Homo sapiens: one gene and its partners. The protein of the gene in region 4 interacts with the protein of the main gene of each other region in a pairwise test. Each region holds a gene or a part of one and is shown on either strand. Other genes may lie near its edges. The genes, in order: SLC7A11, U2SURP, TEAD2, TERT, IREB2, PHF20L1 and GLIS2.

Region 1 (3,500 bases), on a different chromosome or scaffold from region 4:
TTGGAATCTAAACTAGTATTAAAGAACAGCCAATGACCCAGAGATTCTGCACTTTTCAAATACTGAAGAAACTCCTTACAGAAGACTGAAGAGTTAGCTCAGAAAAATAAAGCACTAACAAAACAGATTATTGTGCCTACATTCCTAACGAATAAGATAGAAATGAGCAGGCTAGCTCTGTGGAGGCCAAGGTGTATTAGAAGAGCAAGCTCCTGTCTTCTCTTCAGTGCAAGCTCTAACGGTCAAAATCTTCATTGTGTTTATTCTGCATTGGCTGCTGTTGCTGGATTTCATAAAAGCATTTCCGCCAGCAGGGCTCTAAAATCTCCCACTAGGCTTATTAAATGGGCAACAGCAGCTCCCTTTCCCAGCTCCAGAGTGGCTGATCCTTCAGTGTTTGTCATTATTTAATGCTTCTACCAACAGTGATGATTTTACCAAACGCTGGCATTTCCTTTTGCCTTGTGTAATTCTTCTGCAACGTCATTAAATTTCTCTAGATTCCCTTTCTTGGAACAGACAATATCAATGTAAACATTAAATACTTAACATGCCCAAGTTATGTCATTCCTTTACAATTTCTTCTCACTTTATTTCCTGCTATATTCCTGTTGCTAATTAAATACCACATGTGAATCTCTGTCCTCCAACAATTTCCACTGAATCCAAGCAACTGCATGTGCCTTCTTTCCTAAAACAAAAACTCTAAATGTCACCTCTCAATTTCTTTTTTTAAATTAAATGTTAAACTCTATAAAGCAAGTAATCGCAGAAATGCGAATTTTATATTAAAAATAATGTAACAATAAAAATTAAGTTTTTACAACTATTTTATTGTGATATAATTTTGGTGTTTAGGAATGCTGTTCCCGTATTGACTCCTCTGTTGAGGATACCACTCTCAATTTAAAAGGAATAATAACCAGAAAGTCAAAGAATTATTGATCATCTTTTATCACTTTCCAGATACCTTTTTCTCTTTAATTTTTATTACTATTATTGGACAATTTTAAAGTAAAAAAAAGACATATTTATCTTTAATTAAAACTAAGTGGCAGGTTTTTTTTTTTTCCACTTCGAGTTTTCACTCCAAACCATTAAACCTAGAAAATTCACTGATGCCTTATTTTGTTGCATGGCCCATTCTTAATCCTCTTTCTGCCATTCAACTGTAAAAACCAACTCACTCACAATGTAGCAGCCTTTCAAATCAATTAGATGACAATATAGAGTTTAAGTTCCACAGGCAGAGACTAATTAAGGATTCTGTTAGTACAAGCAAAAGTTAGTGTTAAAAAAGACCAAAAGCAGATACGTATTTTAAAAAGCATTTGCTTTTCAGTCCATACCTTTAATTAGCTGCATAACTCCAGGGACTATAATTATCAGAATTGCTGTGAGCTTGCAAAAGGTTAAGAAAATCTGGATCCGGGCGCTCCAGCTGACACTCATGCTATTTAGGACCATCACTACAGCTGCAAACAAATAGAGGAAGTTACAAAAGGTGAATTCTCACTGGCACAAAGACATTTTAGGTCCTTGTTACTCAAAGGGCAATCTGTGAGGCAGCAGTGTTGACATTACTTAGAAGTGTTTTAGAAATGCAGAATCTCAGGCTCTGCCCCAGGCCTAATGAATACAAATCTACATTTCAACAGGTTCTCCAGCTGGTTTTTATGCACATTGAAGTTTGAGAAACATGGATAAAGCCTCTGGACAATAAGAATTCTTCTCTTGTTCTTTGTATGTAAGAGTGGACATATATTGTAGTACTCTAACAATCACATAAAAATGTCTTCTAACCAAACCCAGCATCCAATCAGATGGCTGAATTTCACTGTCTAGCTTGATGTGACAACTCTTTCCTGTCTCTATGATGGTATGCCTGCCAATGTGGATCACACTCAAGAAGGAGCAAGAAGTGTAGAAGTTGGCTCAGATCTTATTTTTCACTCTCAGGACTAGCCTCAGGCAGCACTTTTCTTTTGGTTGTCTTCTTTCTAATTAGCATGTCAAGGGGCGACTTTCAACCCACCGTACAAGTATAGTTTTTCAAGATATGTTTCAGGGCTTCAGCACAATATTCTAAGTGATGAGTGCAAAAGACTAACCAGGCTAGAATGCACATTGGGTTCAAAGCCAGAAGAATTTTTCATTCTTACTGATGCTGTCTACAATTTCCCAAGCAGCAATAACTATCCACCTTCGACACCTTGTGGACCATGAAAACCTCAAGGATAGAGCAAGGGTTATTCATCGCTGTATCGCTGGTATCCAGCTCCATGCCTGGCCCAGGTAACTTAATACATTTTTGTTGAATGAATGAACTGGATCCTCAGTTAGAAAATCTAAGGCACAAGGGAAATGGTGATGCTCTAAGACCTTTCTCCCCTACTCTGCTGGGATGACTGAGGTTATTCTAGACAGTGGTTTTCAACTTTATACTCTTTCCACAACCTTATGCTTGGAACAACCCAAAACACTACTTTATTCCTGACATTTACAGTTATTAACTATAACCTTTATATTTATAAAGGTATATTCTCCCTAAACAAATATTTAAAATGTAAAGATATTTCTCAAAGAATGAAACAAAACTCCTACAGAATTCTTATTATTCAAATTGAAATTGGAAGTTTTCCTTATATATAGTAATGAGTCCGCCTCACAGTTTTCACTGCCTGATATAGTTACTAGCTCACTTCAGAATTTAACAATCAATGCAAATGTCAGCAACACATAATCTTTAAAGGCAAAAAAATGGAAATAGCCTAAACCTCCTAAAGGAAGGCTAATTAAGGTATATCATTTTAATAGTTTATATGCAGCCACTTAAAATTATGAGGCAGTTAAATATTTATTACAAGAAAGGATATTCATGATATATTACTGATCAATACAGCAAGTTAGAGGAATGGATGGAAAGAAGGAAGGAAGGAAGAAGGAAAAGAAGGAAGGAAGGATGAAAGGAAGGAAGGAAGGAAGGAAGGAAGGAAGGAAGGAAGGAAGGAGAAATAGATCTGGAAACATATTTACCAAAACATCAACAGCAGGTGTTTATAAGTGATAGAACACTAAATAATTTTCAATTTTTTAAATTTATTTTTAGGAATAGTTTAATAAATTTTATGATGAACATATAGCATTTTGGTGGCTATAGTTTCAAATACTGAATTGTATACTTGAAATATACTTAAATGTTCTCACCACAGAACAAAACAAAAAAAAGAGGGGTAACTAAATGATGTGACAGAGGTGTTAACTCACTTGATTGAGACAATAATTTCACTATATATATATATATATATATATATATATATATAAATAAAATCATTACATTGTACACCCTAAAATTACAATTTTATTTGTTGTATATACCTCAATAAAGATGAAAAAATTTTCAAAAGTAAATGAAGCAATAAAATACATTTTGTTTTTGGAAAAAACTCCAAGATGGGAAAAATAAGGGATCAGAAGATCTCATACAAAGTGAAATACAG
Region 2 (3,500 bases), on a different chromosome or scaffold from region 4:
CTAAGAAAATATTTTGTAGTTTGATCAAAAATGGTTCTGGATAAATTGCCCAATCTTCCCATGCTCTGAAGCAAGTCATTACCCGTTGCTAAAGAAACAGGAAACAGACAACAAACTTTTATTTTGGGCTATATGTCTCAAATTTCAGTTCATGAGAATGATCATCAAGATTTGCTAAATTTGCCTTTAAACTGATGTTTTTTTAAACTTTAAAGAAAATAACTATATATCATTACCATATTTTTTAAAAAAATCAATGTCACCTTCTAATTAAAAGGAAAAAAACCCCTAAAAATAAATATAATGAAAAATAAACAGTAACTATTTGCTCTTTACCACCTAAGGTCAGCTCCCATACCATTAGTACTACCCATGAGCCACATTCCAGAAACACTTACATAGAAACTTACTAAAACTGGAAACCAAAGTAGCCAAGTTTTGACCTGAATCCCTTATGGTCCAATAAAGTACTTCCTAATTCTGGCTAATACTTTACTCTGTATCTTCCTGAAACTTGTCTTTAAATTCTAACTTATGGTCAAAATTTAAGGTCAAAAACTTTTAAAATGGGAGTTGTCTGAATGCCCTAAATGGTGGCGTCACTGGGCATCTTCCGAAACTAAAAATTTTTCTTAAAAAAGTCTTCTTCCCATGAAAGCATATTTACTTATTCAATTATAAGTGAAGTACTACACTTGGCTTTTCTTAACACTGGTCTAGAGCTTAAGAGGTTATAAAAAAATTGGTAACAGAATAGACTTTCTAAACATGATTAAAATGTATGTCTTTAATCCAGCCAAATAGTATATACCATTACAAAACAAGTGATTCTTCTGTATGTTTTATGAAAAAAGACTAACATTTATAATTTTTAAACAATATTTAAAACTAAAATTAAACCTGACAAAATAGTATCTTTTAAATTTTTGATTTGATAAAAACAAAAACGACAGAATTTTAAAACAGTAACTTCTGTAACATCTAAGTTTTAAATTTATGTCTCATACTTGTCTTATGCACTTTTCTAGCCCTTCAATGCCCTCCCCCCACCCATTTAAAACACTAGGGCAAAAATAGTAAAACAATAAACGTACCTTAAAGTTTTCAGATTGTAAATGGCCTTGAATTGTACGATAGGTGGCATTGAGGTCTGAAAATATCTGACATAACTTTGTTTCAAAACTGAAATTCAAATAACACATTCTTTAAAATAAAATGTTTAAAATTCCTTTCCCTTTTAGCATGCCAGCCAATGAAAACCCCTCCTGAACTTAAAATACTTACAAATCAAGAAATTATTAAAAATCAAAAACTAGGTGTTTAAACTCTAAAACCGTAACTGAATTGCTTGAACTCTTATTACTCTGAATTTTTCTCCTACAAACTCCCCAACAGTCCCTACTAGTTCCCTTTACGAGCAAGAAACGTTATATCTAGGATATGCTGAACCATCTCGTCCAATTTCTTTATTTTATAAAACAGAAAACTTAGAAAAGTGACTCGTCCAAGGCAAAAAAACTAATAGCAGACCTAAGAGTAGGATCCAGCTCTCTAAATTTCTTTTCAGAGCAACATCCTAGGGAAAAGCTTCCCTTTGCCTAATTCATAAAATAAACACAGAAAGAGAGCTCTGGGGAACAGAGGAAAAGTTATACTTTTTTTTTTTTGAGATGGAGTTTTGCTCGTCACCCAAGCTAGAGGACAATGGTGCCATCTCGGCTCACTGCAACCTCCGCCTCCCGGGTTCAAGCGATTCTCCTGCCTCAGCTTCCCGAGTAGCTGGGATTACAGAGGCACACCACCACGCCCAGCTAATCTTTGTATTTTTACTAGAGATGGGGTTTCACCACGTTGGCCAGGGTGGTCTCGAACTTCTGACCTCAGGTAATCAGCCCTTCTTGGCCTCCCAAAGTGCTGAGATTACAGGCGTGAGCCACTGTGCCCAGCTGAATTATACATTAATTATAATACAGCAACGTAACTTCCTTTTGCCTTAGGAAACATTTACAATGAACTAAAATCAATATGCTGAGGATCAGAAGAGAACACAGATTCTATAGTTAATAGTATGTCTTTGGTCTCTTATGTTTGCCAGTATATACACTGTTTCTATTTATTATATGAATAGCTAGATATGCAATAAAGTTCTCTTTAACACCTATTTGTTATACTGTCAATAGCTAAGAAAGTGATATGATATAAAATCTTTCCAAAAAATTGGTAATTTAGCTTAAGTGTAAGCCAATTTTTTAAAAAATTCTACAAACCATTAAGAAATTCAAATTAGTCTTCCCTCAGTATCCATGGGGGGACTGGTTCCAAGACCTCCCATGGACACCAAAATCCACAGATGCTCAAGTTCCTGATTGAAAATGGCATAATATTCACCTGTAACCTATCCTCATCCTCCCATCTGTTAAATCATCTCTAGGTTACTTACAATACCTAATACAATGTAAATGCTATGTAGAGTTTTCATACTATATTGTTTAGAAAATGACAAGGAAAAAAGTCTGTACAGGTTCGGTACAGATACAATTTTTCTTCTCAAATATTTTCAATTCATGGTTGGTTGAATTCATGGATAAGGAACCCACAGACATGGAGGGCTGACTGTACTTCTTATTCTTGCAGGATGTTAACAAAACAATCCTCTTTTCTGAACTCCTTACCCTTAAATACTTTATTTCAGGAATATCAGTTATATCATTATACTTACAATTTTCTATAATATGAAGCATTAGCAACTTTGGCTGAAGAGTTGTACAAAACATCAGAAACCAAATATAATCTGGCAATCTATAATATCAAAAGATAACACAAAATAGGTTAATATAAGGCTAATGTTTAGCTATAATTTAATTATGGCTACTAATTAGAAGAGTTATATGAAGCTCAGTATCACCACAACTATGACTCTGGCAGAGATGAAATTTGTTAACCCATTTACATTTCAACTTGTTTGTTAACTTGTATGTTAATGAACCTAAATTTCCAAGCAGAAATAACATAAGACTGCATGGGAAAAATCTCATCAGTCAAGTGCTTTGTGCAAAAAGGAAACCAATTCTAATCCCAAAAGACGTCAACTATCTCCCCTTTTCTTAAAATTCATTCCCATACCTTTTTAGGAAGGGGTGTCTTTAAGATGGACAACGACTCAGTAATGCAATCCACTATTTCTTCAGCAGCTTCAGCATTATTAAGACAGAAAACCATTGCATCTCCAATATCATTTTTCCTTGGAGTTAATCCCCGCAAGATTTCTTCCAATTTATCCCTCTGTCTGAACATAAATTGTTTTAACTTATAAATATTTAGATACAATTTCAAATGCCATTGTAGCTTTTGCTCACAAACTAATTTCTTTAAAACCTACTCACATAAAATAATTCTGAAGACTGTAATACATTCAGTCTGATTTGTGTTGTGTCCCCCAAAATTGTTACAATTTTTTGAAGAATTTATATAAGAATACTCTGTAGAATAAGATTCCAATT
Region 3 (2,661 bases), on a different chromosome or scaffold from region 4:
TCGGAGATCCGAATCAGGATCTCTGAGCCTGCAAATCACAAGCCCCTCAAAGTGATTCTCTGAACCCCCAAAGACCTCTGGACTCCTCTAACCTCCCAGCCCTCAGATACCCTCCAAAGACCCCTCCATGACGTCTTCAAACTCTGACTTCTAAACTTGAGACTTCCCCAAGTCTCCAGCAACTGTAAGTGTGACTTCTGAACCTTCTTGCCCTAAGAACCTCTCCATATCCATAAGACCCTTCTCAATCTCAGTGACTCTAAGTCTCTATACTACACATTACCTGTCAGCCCGCAGAATGATCCCTGCCTGTGACTTCTGAACTGCCCATTAGCTCCCAACGCATGCATTAAACCCTCAAAGAGGCTGGGACCCACTCCCTCCATGCATACTCCCAAATGCCTGAGTCATGATGGCTTCTGGTCCATTCTGCACCCCCAAGTGCTGACCCAGAGCTCCACCCCTCCAGCCTCACCTCCACCTTCTCCACCACCTGCTTGCCAAAAGAGCAGACCTTGGAGGAACAGGTGAGGGTCATGTGTTCCAGGCTCTCATACTGGCTGCTCACTCCGTAGAAGCCACCACTGCTGATGCTGCCACCGGCCCCTGCCTCCTCACCACTTGGGCCCCAGTTCAGGTCCGCCTGGGAGATGGGAAGGCACAGATGAGTCAGAGGGGACATCCCTTATAAACAGTGGGGACTACCAGGCGCAGTGGTTCACACCTGTAATCCCAGTACTTTGGGAGGCCGAGGCGGGCGGATCACCTGAGGTTGGGAGTTCAAGACCAGCCTGACCAACATGGAGAAACCCCATCTCTACTAAAAATACAAAATTAGCCGGGCGTGGTGGTGCATGCTTGTAATCCCAGCTACTGGGACACTGACGCAGGAGAATCACTTGAACCCGGGAGGCAGAGGTTGCGGTGAGCCGAGATCATACCATTGCACTCCAGCCTGAGCAACGAGAGCGAAACTCCATCTTAAAAAAAAAAAAAACACAGTGGGGACTCTGCCCCATAGCCTACCATTACCCCTGCAGTTCCCGGCTTGATTCTTCAGTGTTGTTTTGTTTTTTTGTTGTTTGTTTGTCTTTTTTTTTGGGGGGGGGGGAACAGGGTCTTGCTCCGTCACCCAGGCAATGTGTGGTGGTACAATCACAGCTCACTGCAGCCTCGACCTCCTGAGCTCAAGTGATCCTCCCATCTCAGCCTCCTGAGTAGCTAGGACCACAGGTGCATGCCACCACATCCAGCTAATATTTTGTATTTTTTGTAGAAACAGGGTTTCACCATGTTGCCCAGGCTGGTCTCCAACTCCTGGGCTCAAGCGATCCTCCCACCTTGGCCTCCGAAAGTGCTGGGATTACAGGCATGAGCCACCGCGTCAGGCTTTCAAAGTTCTCCAAGGGCTGGTTTCTGGAGAAGATCCACCGTCCATCAGCGTTGAAGAAGTCTGGGTCCCCAAAACAGTCTTGGCCCTGTCTCCCCAGTAACCAAAGGAGCCCTGGAATTCAATTTCAACCTTTTTTCTTTTCTTTTTTTTTTTTCTGAGATGAAGTCTCGCTCTTGTTGCCCAGTGCAATGCCGCGATCTTGACTCACTGCAACCTCTGCCTCCCGGGTTCAAGCGATTCTCCTGCCTCAGCCTCCCAAGTGGCTGGGATTACAGGCGCACGCCACCATGTCTGGCTAATTTTTGTATTTTTAGTAGAGACAGGGTTTTGTCATGTTGGCCAGGTTGGTCTCAAACTCCTGAACTCAGGTGATCCACCCACCTAGGCCTCCCAAAGTGCTGAGATTACAGGCATGAGCCACTGTGTCCAGCCAATTCAACCTTTTTCCCTTGAAGCCCGCAACTCAAGAGTTCAGCCCCTTCCAAGGGCCTGGTTACTATGGCAGTTACTTCTTAGCAACCAGTTCAAGATGAATACCTCCCTCTAAGCCCCTCTCACTCTGGTTGCTAAGGCAAGTGGCTACTCCCTAGCAACGGGACCTCACGGAGCCTGAGGAGGCCTGACTCCTCCTCAGAGCACTTCCCCCTCGGCCAAATCTGAGAGGTCAGACTCCCTCCATGACCCCAGTGGCCAAGTGTGTGTAGACAGCTGGCCAAGTGTCACTAGGCCAAGTGGGGCCTAAGGAAGCCTAAGAGCTCATCACACCTTTGGTCTGAGTCACCTCCTTGCGAGGCGCACCTCTTCCTCTTCCTAACTTTAGTTGCTAACACTGTGCCAGGTCCGTCTTCTCAGGGGCCCGACTCCATCTCTCACCGTGGCAAAACCAAAGACCTTACCAGCTGCTCCTCTGAACCCCTTCAGCAGCTGGGCTTCCTAAGGGGGTGGCTCTCCAGTCCTGGGACCTGATAAGGCCTGTCTTAAGCCCCAACAATGTCTAAGCCCTCAGCTGCACATCCCCAGAGCAGTTTCAGGCTTCTGCTTCACATGGCAGAAAGCTCCAGAACCGTGAACAGCAAGCTCCAGAACAACAACACTCCCAGCAAGAACAGTAAAGTTCAGGCCCTCAGCAGGCCTTTCCTTCCTTTCCTTCCTTCCTTCCTTCTTTCTTTCCTTCTTTCTTTTCTTTCCTTTCTTTCCTTCTTCCTTTCTTCCTTTCTTTCTTTCGGCAGGGTCTCATTCTGTCACCCAGGCTGGAGGGCAGTGGCACA
Region 4 (3,500 bases):
TTCGGGTTTGGAGAGACTCACGCCCAGCAGGGCCCGGGCGTCTTGGGTTCGGATCCAGACTGCTTTCTGAAGACACCTCAGTGCACCCAGGTCTGGTGCACCATTTCCTTTTACCAAAATAGCACAGAAAACTGCTCCCGTTGTGAGCACCCTCACTCCCACAGAAAGATGCATTTCTGCTCAGCCCCAGATGGGACGAGGGGCACCCTGTGGCCTCTGACCCTTTGGGATTGGCAGTCGCCTGCCCCACACGGAAGCAGAGGTGGACGCAACGGCCCTGCAGCAGCACCTGCCCCAGCCGGGCACAGGCTCCACTTCCGGCCAGGTGCGCTCACCTGGAGTAGTCGCTCTGCACCTCCAGGGTCCGGGTATCCAGCAGCAGGCCGCACCAGGGGAATAGGCCGTGGGCCGGCATCTGAACAAAAGCCGTGCCACCCAGGGCCTCGTCTTCTACAGGGAAGTTCACCACTGTCTTCCGCAAGTTCACCACGCAGCCATACTCAGGGACACCTCGGACCAGGGTCCTAAGGCAGAGGGGCAATGTCAGCCCCAGGATGCGGGGCCGTCACCCAGGAGGTAACCTGACACCCTTGTTAAATGCTTTGGAAAACCCCAGAGAAGTGGTGATTTGGAGCAGGGTGCTGGGCCTGGCAGGAGCTCTGAGGAGCCTGGACCCAGCCCTGCTCCAGACTTCGGGGTGCTTTCCCTGTCTCCCGGGCAGGACAGGTAGGTGAGCATGCAAGAACCTGGCCTGGACCCGGGACAGCCAGGACTCAGATGGGAGGTGCAGCCCCAGTGGCCTCTGTGATGGTCCATCTCATGTGTCCCCATGGCAACACCACAATCCCGTTATAGACTCATCTGTGGTCCGGGGCAGACTAAAATCTGGACAAGAAATTGCCACCATCCCACCTTCTTTTAAGACGTTTCTCAACGACTTTGCCTGTTTTCTCCTAGATGCCCTGAAGGCATCTGCTGTGCTTTAGACAAAGGGGAGGGTTCTGAGTTCCTGCTCAGGCGCGGGACCTGGCTGGGCTGTGAGCTGGGCAACACCAGTCGTCAGCTTCACGTCAAGGAGGTTCCCTCGCCGAGTCATGAGCCTCGCTCACCCAGCTCAGGGAGCCCCCCTGTGCCCGGTAGCCTCTGCTCTGGCCTGGGCATCCCCTTCCCTTCCTGCGGCCTCTGCTGTGGCCCCGGGCGTCCCCCTGCCCTTCCTGTGGCCTGGCCCTGGGACCTCGGCCAGCTGCGCAGCTCCCCTGGTGCATTCCCAGCTCCCTGTGGCCACCCCTTCCTGTTACATGGCTGCCGACTCATCAGAGACAGAGTTCTGCCCCCGGTGGGACCCCAACATACACTCTGAGCCACCTCCCTGGCCAGCACCCTCAGGAACTTGCCACACAGAAGCAGCGTTCCCCGTCTGCTCTGTCCCCTCAGCAGCCTCAGGACTCCTGAGCCCTCAGTTGCTTGGGACCTGGGCTCCCCCCGAGTGAATCTTAGTGGATTTAAATGTGCACAGCCTGCTGTGCTCCGGGCTGCGGCACAAGGAACGCCAGGCATACCCCCAGCCCAGGGCGGCCCTGGAGGGTGGACCTGGAGGGTGGACTTGGAGGGCGGGTCCAAATGGGTTTTCACAAACACAGCCCAGCAAAGCACCTGAAACCACCCCTGGCGGCCACATTTTCTGAGGGTTCCCTTTACAGCTTTCAAGGTTTCTCGTCCCTCGTCAAATCGCACTTTAAAACAAGCCCACCGGCTCTGTGGGGCGCCCTTGAGGGGGACCACATTGGACAATCCCCTGTGCTGAGGCCAGGTCCCCTGTGCCTGATTTTAGTTTGATTCACAAAAATCAACTCTGAAACCCACTCCTAGCCATCTCCGTGGTTCAAGACAGCAGCACTCAGCAAATCCAAATTCTCCCACCGATCCCAAACAACCCCACGCAGGAACGTGACCGCAGCGAACGCTGTGGGCCAGCTCACTCAGCAGCTCCTGCTCTCCGCAGGCTCAGGTGCACCCTGGGGAGGAGGCTGCCGCCTCGGCCCTGCAGGCCCTGTGCACAGCTCCTGGGGGTCTCACTGGGGCCCCAGGAGCCGCCACTCTTGACTTTCCAAAGAGCAGCAGGAGCCAGGTCACCGCCTGCACTCACCACGTGTGTAACCTGGGTGCGTCTCTGCAGGACCAGGGCCTGCACGGTACCCACTCCCTCCCGAAGGTGCCCCTGCGCCCCCAGGCCTGGGTGCACGGCCAAGCGCCTCTGCTCTTGCGGATCCAGCACCGGCAGAGAGAGAGGACTTGGCAGAGACAACGCTGCGGTGCCAGGGGCAGGACACGGGGGGCTCAACTGCAAAGCCCACAGGCTGTGGAGGTCCCCACAGACACACGGCACGGGCCTCACCTGAGGAAGGTTTTCGCGTGGGTGAGGTGAGGTGTCACCAACAAGAAATCATCCACCAAACGCAGGAGCAGCCTAAAATAAGGGAAAATACACAGCAAGGTTAACTTTACACTTTTTACGTAGTATCTGTCTACGAGGGACTGAATGTCAAACAATTTACACAGCCATAAATAAAGTAACATTCTCCAAAGCGGTTAAATGAAAAACTTAAATTTCTTTCCAACAGACGAGCTCTCTACAGTTAACTGCTACAGCAATTCCTCATTCATTATAAGTACTCAGTGTTTACCATCAGCTTGTGCAATTCTGTGCCAGCTGAAGACGAACGAAGGCCATCAGGCGCGGCCCCACTTCTCAGACTCTTAGGGAAAAATAACTGAAGACGGTAAGAAAGCTGGGGCTGGGAACCTCGCCCCCTCTGAGCCACGTGGTGCCCTTTACCAGCATGGCAGCTGTGGTCCTCAGCATGATCCGAGACCCAGATCCTATCCACAGGAAGCTGGGCATGGTGCACTGTGTGACCCTCAGGCCCAAGCCCAGCGCCCCATGACCATGGGCCAGAGGTATCCTGTCCCAGAGGGCTGACCAGTGTGCCGCCAGCTCGAGGACACTTTCCTCCAAATCCCAGAGCAAGTTGTGTGTACAAGAAATTTTTGTTTCTGTTACATAAACTTATTTCAATCTAGAACTTGAACCTTAATGAAGAAGAACCTTGATCCACTGTACATGCTATAATTGGAGCTAGAGTTTCAAAAGATGCACAGGAAAAACCCGGAGTCTTCGAGAGAAATGGCTGTGTGGCCTGCAGGCTTCCTGACGCATCCTTCACTAACTGTCTGCTTGTTCAGTGATACTATTTTCATAAAAAAATAACTGCTGTCCACATCCTCTCCAGCACCAGAACACTTTTACACTGTTGGTGGGAGTGTAAACTAGTTCAACCATTGTGGAAGACAGTGTGGTGATTCCTCAAGGATCTAGAACTAGAAATACCATTTGACCCAGCCATCCCATTACTGGGTATATACCCAAAGGATTATAAATCATGCTGCTATAAAGACACATGCACACGTATGTTTATTGCGGCACTATTCACAGTAGCAAA
Region 5 (3,500 bases), on a different chromosome or scaffold from region 4:
CTACTTTTAATAAAAATAAAGTATATGTTGTTTTGTAACCCTTTTTTTCACTTAATATATCATGAACATCTTTCCATGTCATTGAATACAGGTATCCCTTGCTATCTGAATCTACTTGGTTTCTGAGTCAGGGAGCTTGAGTTCAGGTAGAAAGGGATACCTGTACTTCTCTGTGGCTTCTAATAGCTGCACAATATTGCCTGTATGAATGCATTGTGGTTTAGTTAACAGACCTTTGAATATTGAGGCTGATAGTAACTTTTCTCTATTTATAAATAAACTTTGTATGTGCTAATACTTACATTTTTGTGCAAACTTATCATTATATAGAATTGTTGGATTGAAAGTATGTTATTTCCTCCACCCCATCACACGCTTTTATTTTTATACTTTCACTATTTACTGTTGGTTCCAGTCTTTATTTTTTTTTTTTTTTTTTTGAGACAGAGTCTTGCTGTGTTGCCCAGGCTGGAGTGCAGTGGCACAGTCTCAGTTCATTGCGTCCTCCAACTCCTGGGTTCAAGTGATTCTTCTGCCTCAGCCTCTGGAGTAGCTGGGATTACAGGCCCATGCCTTCACACCCTGCTGATTTTTGTATTTTTAGTAGAGACAGGGTTTCGCCATGCTGGCCAGGCTGGTCTCGGAACTCCTGGCCTCAGGTGATCCACCTGCCTTGGCCTCCCAAAGTGTTGAGATTACAGGCATGAACCACTGCACCCGGTCTGGTTCCAGTCTTTACCTTGGACTAAAAAGAACAAAAACTCACTCAAGTAAAAAATAGGTTGCAGTTTCCAGACATCCAAAGACAAAGGAAGAAAGCATAGTCAAGTTTCAGGGAACCAGAATTTCTAAGCCAGAGGCAGTGTTCTGTTTGTCACTTAAAGGCTGCCTGGTTTCCTTATTTTCTGTTTCTTTTTGAATATCCAGTCTTCCATCTCTACAGCCTACTTCACTTACTCATTTTTGTATAATGCCCAATATGGCCACTGCTGACCATTCTTGTATGTTATGACTGGATTACTAACCGGTTAAGAGTGTACCTCTAGGTGACTCTTTTACTTGTTTTGTTTTGTTTGTTTTGTTTTTTCCCTCAGGGTCTTGCTCTGTTGCCCAGGCTGGAGTGTAGTGGTTCGATCATGGCTCACTGCAGCCTGGACCTCCCGGGCTCAAGTGATCCTCTTTCCTCAGTCTCCCAAGTAGTTGGGACTACAAGCACATGCCATCATGCCTGGCTAAATTTTAAATGTTTTGTAGAGACAGGGTCTCCCTACATTGCCTAGGCTGGTCTTGAATCCTGGCTTCAAGTGATCCTTCTGCCTCAGCCTCCCAAAGTGCTGGGGTTACAGGTGTGATCCATTGTATCCAGCTCACCTGTTGTTTTAACCTATTTTGACTGCACTTGTCAGGAGTCTATTGCCGGTCTGGTGATCTTGCTGGTAGAGACACAAATCTGTTCATCTTGTCTTTTATGTGGACTCTTGAAAAGACTGGGTTGGGTAAGCAATGTAACAGTTTGCTTGTAATTTGTACACATAGTACATAACTTTCCAAGGATTACCTTTACCTAACATCATCCTACTAGTCCATGTATAGCCATGTGCTCACCAACCCTCCACATTTCAACTTTGTTTTTATTGCCAATTTCTATTCTAGATTAGGCCCTTTTGGTTCCAAGGAACAGACACTAGCTCGAGTGAAGAAGGATTTATTGTAATGATACAGCGCTCCCCAGGCCAATGAAATGTGGCTGTCTCTCAAGAAAATGGTGGTGGCCCAGAATTAAGGAAGTTGTTTATTATTTTCTCTTAGGAGCTTCAGATTTCTGCCCTGTTCCACTCTTCTGCTTCCTCCACTTCACTATAGACAAGCCTCCTCTGCCTGCTCACTTTGTACATGGCCTCAAATGGCAACCTCAGTCCCTAGCTTAGCTCTTAACACCTTTCCAGTTCAGTCTCTCTGTGTCCTGATTACACATTTCTGAGAGGTGAATCTAATTGCCCCAGTGTCTCCTTTCTCACAAGACTTTTGGTCATCAGCCTACCAGGGGATTGGCTTTTGCGTCGCTGCTGTAGCCAAGGAGGCCACAGGCCACCGAGAACTGTAGCAGTTTGGACAGGCACCATGAAGGACATCTGTTGTATAGTGTTAGCAAAGAATGCCAGTTTACATGCTTACCAGTGAATGAGAAGAATATGTGTTTCTGCACCTTCATCAATAGTAGATATTATTTTTCTTGTTGGCTCAATTTCTGTCAGTGAATGAAGAGAAGAAAAAAAACTTTCTTCTACATTAAATTGGGGGGTTTATTGTGAAGATTTGAAGGAAATAAGGAAATTGAGGGGATCTGAGTGCGTGGTCAGATCAGACTCTTTGTTCCCTTCAGTAGGCATGCATAGAACCCATGATTCTGGCTTAGCTGATTTTCCCTATTTCTGCTTTCCTTTCTTTTTCTTTTCTTTCTTTCTTTTTTTTTTTTTTTGAGACAGGATCTCTCTTTGTTACTCAAGCTGGGGTACAGTGATGCAGTCATAGTTCACTGCATCTTCAACCTCCTGGACTCAGGCAATCCTCCCATCTCAGCCTCCCACTACAAGAAGACACCACTACACCTGGCTAATTTTTTTTTTTTTTTTGAGACGGACTCTTGCTCTGTCACCCAGGCTGGAATGCAGTGGCACCGTCTCGGCTCACTGCAACCTCCGCCTACCAGGTTCAAGCAATTCTCCTGCCTCAGCCTCCTGAGTAGCTGGGATTACAGGTGCGTGCCACCATACCTGGCTGATTTTTGTATTTTTAGTAGAGATGGCATTTCACCATGTTGGCTAGGCTGGTCTCAAACTCCTGACCTCAGATGATCCACCTGCCTCGGCCTCCCAAAGTGCTGGGAGTACAGGCGTGAGCCACCACTCCCGCTCTGATTTTTTTTTTATCTTTTATAGAGACGGGAGTCTCCTGAACTCCTGACCTCAAGCAGTCTTCCTGCCTTGGCCTCCCAGTGTGCTAGGATTACAGGCGTGAGCCACCATGCCCGGCCCATTATTCTGCTTTTCTTTTTCTCTTGGTTCTTTTTTGTTTCCATCTGTTTTCTGCCTTCTCCCTAAGTCAAGTTCAAGGTATCACAGAACGAGGCTGAGGCAGCCTATTGGACATGACATTTGTGCTTGGCGAACTCCCTGTGCCACTGGCCAGACTGTAAATTGGTTGTCTGTTGGAAGGCTGGCTCCAGGTCCCAGCTATTCATGCCAGGATGGCAAGGCTACACAGAGCCCACCAGCAATTGGTATAGAAGGAACTTTTTAGAAAGAGGGCTGTGGTATAGGCATTCTGAGGACGTGCCAGTACAGGTGAAAAAACAAAATCTTATGCAGGAATCTGTTTTGTTTTCTGCTTCCTCAGACTCTCTCAATGGCAATGTATGTATGTATGTATGTATATATTTATTTATTTGAGACAGAGTCTTGCTCTGTCATCCCAGCTGGAGTGCAGTGGCATGATCTCAG
Region 6 (3,500 bases), on a different chromosome or scaffold from region 4:
TGTTGACAAGGGGCAATAGATAACTGTTGGCCCAAGGTGCCTGTGAGAACCTGAACCAAGAGTATTTTTCAAAAGACCCCTTTTCAAAAAACTTGATTTACTCTATCCTCCCAGATACTAACAGAATTAAGATTTTCTGAGGCTGTATCCTTATCTAAAATTGGCTGGCTCTGTGACAAAGCATCCTGATAGTAAAATAAAAACAAAGGCATCAATTTTTACAAAGATACCAATTACTTGTTTGGTAATGTAGGCAGCAATAGCATTCTTAACAGTGGCTAGACATGTGGGCATCCACCCCAGCAGAAGAACATACGAGAGATTATTGCAAGTTCATTATCTCTATTGGAAAACAATTAAGAAAAGTTGTATATAATAATTGGACTATCTGCAAATCTCATCAATCCTTCAGCATCAAATGCTAAACTCAACAGTGTGAATTTATCTTGCTCCCCCAAAAGTAAAAACCTAACCATGTTGAACAATTTCACAGTTAGCAACTAACACCCTCATCATTCTAAACTCCCCAAGAGTTTCAATTTGACAAAAATAACTCAGAAAATGTCTCTGACGAACTGTAAAGAATGTTTTCAATTATCAGTTTTAAAATTCAACAGTAAGAAAATTTACTTTTATAATATGGACACCAACAAAACATACATGTGTGTATGAGTATGTGCATATATGTACATATGTATCAGAGAAATAAAAACATAAAAACCTGGCACTTTGGCTCTAGATGTAAAAGGACTTGGGGAACAGACAGAAGCATAACAAATACTGCAAAATAGTCAAGAGAGGGTGAATAACAAAAAGGTTAAGGAGAAAAGCATAGAGACCACCGAGAATTTCAATGCACGTGGGACAGGCACACAAGGTTGTAATCAAAAGGTGTTCAGTCAGAACATGACCTAAATTGCACTACTTTCCTCAAAAACTAAAAATTAAGAGGTCACAGAAACAAATGAGAATTTCACCTCCCTCTATTCAAATACTGTGTTCAACCCTCTAATAAATCTTCAGTAATTAACAATTAAAACTATGCATTTCCTTGCTATAATCAATTAAAGTTGACAGCTACTGTACTATTAAGCTCATCATATCCAGATAATCCTTACTCTTCCACAAATTCAAATTATAGCTAAACTCCTCTCTACCTTTTACTTTCCCAGAAAACGATCTTACTTATTTTACTTTTCCAATAGTTACTGCTAATATTTAAAAAGGGAAAGAATATTCGTGTGCCTTCCTCTAAGGTAGTCAGCCACATTGCCACAAATATGCTAGAAATTCTGAAAAGAGGAAGTTAATAATCTGGTTAGAAGCAAAATCATCGAAGTCAAGGACTTCCATGCACAATCACTACATTGATATTTTATGATATATAATCTGTTAATGTAAGACTCTTAGTTATTACACAGTTACTTATATTGGCCTATATTTCAATATTGTTACAAATATTAGAATACTTTTAAAGAAAAATGTAAATATTTTCACATGTACATTTGAAAATAATTTTCCCAATGTATATACAACCTTATAACTTTAACATATTTTTCATATATTCAGTACGGTAACAAATTCCAGATCGTTAAAGAACCGAATAAGACCTTTATCAAAAAAGTATCTCAATGGGTCAATGACAATTTGGAAATCTTGTGGAAAAGTGGAAAAGAAAAATTAATTATCTTAAGGAAAGACCAAGAGTCAAAAGACAATAGATCTGATTTGAGAAACTACAGGAAATGTTTCAAAATCTACAAATATTCACATTTGGGTATTGTTTTATTTTTTTAAACATGATAAAGAATTATCATGTACAAAGTAACTTCAACCTTTATATAAAGATAAAAATTAATAAAAATAAGTATATGTCTCTTATGTTACTTCAATCATTTTATTTCAATACATGCCATCACCAGAAAAGAATAAGTTTCATTTTATGCTTCATCCAAAAAATGGATAAAATGGTTTCAGGGAAGACGCCTGTAAACACAATGATCACCAACACCCTTGGTAACGAATCAACAAACTGCCTTATGTTTTTCTCCAACTCACAACAAACTAAATTCAGACTTCCTTCAAACATCTAGTTCCAACAGTAATTTACCAGAAGTGCATTTGTAACTAGTATTGGCCTTTTTATTTTATGTGTATTCTAGATCAGGTTATAATTCTTAAAAACTTCTAAATAAAACAATGCACCCACATAAGGGAAACATGAATAGATATTATTAGATTTAAAATATCAGCTTGGTAAAATACACATCCAAATGCTTTCGAACTACAATAAATATCACAAAATCATGCAAAAAATGTGTTATTAAGGATGGCTGATTTTACATATTGCACTCCTCAAATAACTTTACAGCAAATTTAATTCAATTTGGAGGATTCTGCCCCAAAATATGGAATTATATTTAAGATACAGGCATATAGCTCAGTGTTTCTTAAATATTAAATTCTATCAAAATCCTTAAACCAAAGTACTGATCCCATTAAGTATTTCCCAGCTTCAAAAGTAAGAATTCCTGTAACTATACTTGGCTCTAATAATTTATATTTAGTAGAAATAAGGATATATAAAAAAGAAGCAGGGAGAAGGAAATAGATCAAGTGACAAGGTTAAGCAGCATGTATGTCCAGGGAATATGATTGTAAAATGATCACACAAAAGACCTTTAAAACGGAGATGAAACTCTCCTATAAATGTTAAAGTATTTATGAAAAGGAATTATATAGGAATCAAAATAATGTAGTTAAACCTCAAAATGTTTATACCTAATAACTGCAAGCCTAGCTACTTATCTACTTATAGGAGCCTTTATTTTTTTTCTTTTACCTGCTGCTGCTGGAGCTCCTCTTCCATCAGCTATTGCTTTGGAAGAAGGATTTGGAAGCATCTGTGTATCCTCTTTTTCTGCCCTGGGACATTCATTACGGTAAGAGGAATCTGAGGCTACCGGTGCTGTAACTTCTGAACCACGACTTAAGTCAAGAGGGAGACAGGGTCCCAGCTTCTCAAGTGGCAAATGTGCAACATCAGGCACTACACAAAATAAAGAGTGTAATGTAATATTAACACAGATAAAATGGCTCAGTTACTATCACTGTGAATTAAAGTGTTACATAATTTAAACAGTGCCTGGCACAAAGAAGGCACTCAATAAATATTTGTAGAATAAGTGAAGTGCTTATAACTCCAGAAGATATAAGAGCAGAAATATCTTAATATTTTAATAATCTTTATCTCTTAGTTTTTTCTTTATCTTCTTTTATGTTTGGTTCTATAGGAAATCAATATACATTACCCTCTGGTACTGAAGATTCTTGCTGATTTTGAGAACTGATGGAGAATACTTTCCCATCAGTGGCTGGAGAGGGAGAAGAAACCTTTTCTACAGAATCATCAGGCATGGGTAAGGTGGCTAAACGCTGAGATCTTCTTCTCCGCTCACTATGCTTGAAAGGTCTAGGGGGATTCACAGGCTGTGGAGGAC
Region 7 (3,500 bases), on a different chromosome or scaffold from region 4:
TAGGGTTTCACCGTGTTAGCCAGGATGGTCTCGATATCCTGACCTCGTGATCCGCCCACCTCGGCCTCCCAAAGTGCTGGGATTACAGGCGTGAGCCACCAAGTCTGGCCTTTTTTTTTTTTTTTTTTTTTTTTTTTAAGACACAGAGTCTTGCTCTGTCTCCCAGGCTGGACTGCAGTGGCGTGGTCATGGCTAACTGCCGCCGAGGCTCAAGAGATCCTCCTGCCTCAGCCTGCAGAGCAGCTAGGACCACAGGTGCACCACCACCACACCCAGCTCATTTTTAAATTTTTTATTTTGCAGAGATGGGGGGGTCTCCCTGTGTCATCCAGGCTGGTCTCGATCTCCTGGACTCAAGCCATCCTCCTGTCTCTGCCTCCCAAAGTGCTAGGATTACAGGCAGGAGCCACCACGCCCAGCCCGTCATCTTCTAATTTAACAGAAAGAGGAAGTGAGTCCCTGGTCACTCCTGAACCAGTCAGAGAAACCCTGGTCTGTGGGTGTCCCTGAGTCTATTACTGGAACCATCACTTCAGCAGTATGGTCTTACAGATGGGGAAACTGAGGGCTGAAGGGGGAGGCATCCAGCCCAGGCTGCACAAGTAGGTGGCAAACCCACAACCAGAAGCCACGGGCAAGCAGCATGAGGACAGTACCCATAGCCAGGTGCGGGTACTGTGAAGGCAGGTGCTGTTTCATCCCCATTTTACAGATGCAAAAACTGAGGCTCAGGGGAGTGAAGTGACCCATCCAAGGTCCCACAGCTTGTCCGTGGCAGAGCTGGGTTTCAACCCCAGGTAAGTCCAGAAGCCATGTTCACTATTGGCCCTTCCTATGTCAGGGGCTCAGGCTTGGTACCCCCTCCCCGCCCAGGGACTTGTGGGGCTAGGAGGGATAGCAGAGCAGGCAGTGGGTGGGCGCTGGAGGGGCTGGCTGGGGTGGGGGGCCCACCAGGAGGCTTGGAGAGCCGAGGGCAGATCTGCTGCCAAAGCAAACGGCCCCACAGCCCCAGATTCCTGGGAACCAGCTGCGGCTCCCTGCTCTGGCCAAGAGCTCCACCCTCCTTGGCCGCCCAGCAGCAGGGGCTGGCGGGCAGGGGCAGGGCCTGCTGGGGGCCCCAGGCAGGAGGGCTCGTCCTCTCAGGGCCCCCCTTCCTGACCAGGCAACAGAACCGGACTCGAAATCTGGGGCCCCACCCGGCTCTGCTACTCCCTTTGCGTGTCTCTTCAGTCTGCGCCTCATCCCCCTCATCCCAAATGGGATTATATAGGACCCCCATGTTGGGTTTCAGGGAGAAACCAATGCAGTGCTGCACATCCAATCACTATTGAGTGCTTCTCCTTCGTCCGTAACGTTCAGCACGGAGAACAGTGCCTGGCACATAGTAGGTGCTTAATAAAACGTGCTGAATGAATCGTCGCCAGTGTGCATGAGTCCATAGCCTTTGGCCCATCTACCGCTGTGAGGGCAGCTGAGTGGGGACTGGCCATCCCCTCTATGCCACTGCAGTCTCACCCTGAACCAGGAGAACCTGGGCTCTGCCACCTGCCAGCCAGCGTGCACCCTAAACAAGCCTATGCCCCTCAAAGAACCTCAGGCCTCTTCAATCCTGGGGAGTGACCACAGCTGGCCCTAACCACCTTCCAGAGCCCAACTGCATCAAAGAAAGAGCACTACAAGGCCCCGGGAAGGCCTGATCAACCCTGGAAGGAGCTGGCCGCAGACAGGCCTCCTCCCAGGACTGGAGGGGGAGGAGCTTATCCTGAGGCCTGGCCCAGCAGATCCCAGGAGAGGGGCCAGGGCAGGCGGCACTTCCTGGAAGAGTGGGGGATTCACCGTCCCTGGGAACCTTTGGCTCAGTAGGCAGCCCCTCCCCCTCCCAAGACGGGGCACTCAGCCAGCACCCCCGGACCTTTTGGGAGGGCAGACCCCCTCCCGGGGTGGGAACACAAGGGGTCCGAGGTGACCCAGCCAGGGCTGACCTCTGCCCTCTGCCGTGGGGTCCTCGGGAAAGCACCTGAAGATGGGATGTGCCAGGGATCTTTTTTCTGCGTGTTCACAGAGTGTGCCCCAGGGCCAGGCTGCCTGGTTACAGCCCCCTGTGCCACCCCTGGCTGTGGGAACTCAGAAAGGCCCTGCTGTCTCTGAGCCTTGGTTTCCTTGTAGGTAACAGACACCACGGCAATGGTCCCTGGGACTCAGGGCATCTTGCAAGGGAGGGCCTTGTCCTCATGCCTGCCATAAAGAAGCTGCCAGCTACTGGTAACCTAAAGGATTCTTGTTTCCGGCCCCAGGCTGGGGGTTCCCTGCACAGCAACTTGGGCCTGCCAAGGTCACCCAGATAATTCAGGCAGAGCTGAAGCTGGAAGACGGGCCGGAGGGCTTCCCTGGCCTGCACCAGCCCGGGCTTCCTAGGAGATGCCCCACCAGAGGCACTTCCTTCTCCAACGCCAGCAGGGAGGGTGACACCGGGCTCCGGGAGCCCCGGCACACACACGCACACTCACACAGATGGCCATGGCAGTCCAGCTGCAGGGCCGGCCTGGCACAGAGGCCTCCCCATCCTGGTGGCTCCGGGCCCCTGCTGCAGTGGCCTCCACCCCCCCGCTGCCTGCCCGCTGCTGCACCTTTGCACAACTATGTCTGGTATTTTCCTGTCTGCCCAGCTTTGGGGGGGTGCTTGGAGCTATGATCACCGCCTGCACCTGGGCCCCAGCCAGAGGAAAGCCCGCCCCGCAGCCCCCACACCTGCCCACCCACCCGGGCTGGGAGGGGAGGGGACCAGAGCACTGGGCCCTGCCACCCAAATCCCTGGGAGGGGCTGGCACCAGGGAGCGAGACAGGGATGCACGCCCAGCAAGGCTGGGGCACAGACAGCCCAGGCCCTGCCAGGCGGCACTGCCATTCTCAGCAGACCCAGCCAGAGCTATCTGAGGCCAGCAAAGGGATGGGCCAGTGTAGCACAGGACATGAGCAGGCACCCACAGCACCCCCGGATGTACAGACACCTGTGCACAAATGTGGCACACACAGGACATCACAGTAACCCCTTGCCCCAGTGTCGGGGCCAGGACTCAGGAGCCTTGGCTTCTGGGGGAGAGCAGGGATGAGGCCGGGTCCCCAGAGCGAAGGAAACACCGCGCCTCCCAAGCCACGCCTGGCTGCAGGCAGATCCCACAAGGAGCTCCTAAGTCCTGGGGGGTCGGGGCAGGCCCGTGGCCCACGCCTCCCCTGCCTGGGGCCAGGTACCAGGTCCACTGGGAACGGCACCCGCCAACTCCGAGAGCAGGAGTGGGTAAGGCGGGCGGTGGACCTTGGCCTGCCCTCCTGCCTCGGTTCTCCAACCACGCATTCATGCATTCCAACGCCAGGCCCTGCTAGATCGAACCGGACCTTGAGGGTGCCCCGACCAAGGTGGGGTGGGAGAAACAGTGTAGGGGGGGGGCTGCTCCTGCAGGGGGTTGGGCACAGATCCGGGTCAGCCTCATGGATATGGGGTG

The links.
Region 1: the proteins of TERT (region 4) and SLC7A11 interact in a two-hybrid assay, tested with the Homo sapiens proteins (one study listed by BioGRID).
Region 2: the proteins of TERT (region 4) and U2SURP interact in a two-hybrid assay, tested with the Homo sapiens proteins (one study listed by BioGRID).
Region 3: the proteins of TERT (region 4) and TEAD2 come close enough for resonance energy transfer, tested with the Homo sapiens proteins (one large-scale study listed by BioGRID).
Region 5: the proteins of TERT (region 4) and IREB2 interact in a two-hybrid assay, tested with the Homo sapiens proteins (one study listed by BioGRID).
Region 6: the proteins of TERT (region 4) and PHF20L1 interact in a two-hybrid assay, tested with the Homo sapiens proteins (one study listed by BioGRID).
Region 7: the proteins of TERT (region 4) and GLIS2 come close enough for resonance energy transfer, tested with the Homo sapiens proteins (one large-scale study listed by BioGRID).

What each region holds. Positions count from the first base shown.
Region 1 is NC_000004.12:138,221,850-138,225,349, forward strand, and holds part of SLC7A11 (cystine/glutamate transporter), read right to left. Parts: intron 1,476-3,500; coding exon 1,350-1,475; intron 1-1,349. UniProt on the Homo sapiens protein: Heterodimer with SLC3A2, that functions as an antiporter by mediating the exchange of extracellular anionic L-cystine and intracellular L-glutamate across the cellular plasma membrane.
Region 2 is NC_000003.12:143,032,570-143,036,069, reverse strand, and holds part of U2SURP (U2 snRNP-associated SURP motif-containing protein), read right to left. Parts: intron 3,287-3,500; coding exon 3,124-3,286; intron 2,800-3,123; coding exon 2,720-2,799; intron 1,183-2,719; coding exon 1,095-1,182; intron 89-1,094; coding exon 1-88.
Region 3 is NC_000019.10:49,342,756-49,345,416, forward strand, and holds part of TEAD2 (transcriptional enhancer factor TEF-4), read right to left. Parts: intron 644-2,661; coding exon 476-643; intron 1-475. UniProt on the Homo sapiens protein: Transcription factor which plays a key role in the Hippo signaling pathway, a pathway involved in organ size control and tumor suppression by restricting proliferation and promoting apoptosis.
Region 4 is NC_000005.10:1,264,069-1,267,568, forward strand, and holds part of TERT (telomerase reverse transcriptase), read right to left. Parts: intron 2,468-3,500; coding exon 2,396-2,467; intron 525-2,395; coding exon 336-524; intron 1-335. UniProt on the Homo sapiens protein: Telomerase is a ribonucleoprotein enzyme essential for the replication of chromosome termini in most eukaryotes. Active in progenitor and cancer cells. Inactive, or very low activity, in normal somatic cells.
Region 5 is NC_000015.10:78,444,716-78,448,215, forward strand, and holds part of IREB2 (iron-responsive element-binding protein 2), read left to right. Parts: intron 1-3,500. UniProt on the Homo sapiens protein: RNA-binding protein that binds to iron-responsive elements (IRES), which are stem-loop structures found in the 5'-UTR of ferritin, and delta aminolevulinic acid synthase mRNAs, and in the 3'-UTR of transferrin receptor mRNA.
Region 6 is NC_000008.11:132,816,888-132,820,387, reverse strand, and holds part of PHF20L1 (PHD finger protein 20-like protein 1), read right to left. Parts: coding exon 3,312-3,500; intron 3,050-3,311; coding exon 2,843-3,049; intron 1-2,842.
Region 7 is NC_000016.10:4,322,567-4,326,066, reverse strand, and holds part of GLIS2 (zinc finger protein GLIS2), read right to left. Parts: intron 1,420-3,500; exon of another isoform or gene 1,292-1,419; intron 798-1,291; exon of another isoform or gene 713-797; intron 1-712. UniProt on the Homo sapiens protein: Can act either as a transcriptional repressor or as a transcriptional activator, depending on the cell context. Acts as a repressor of the Hedgehog signaling pathway. Represses the Hedgehog-dependent expression of Wnt4.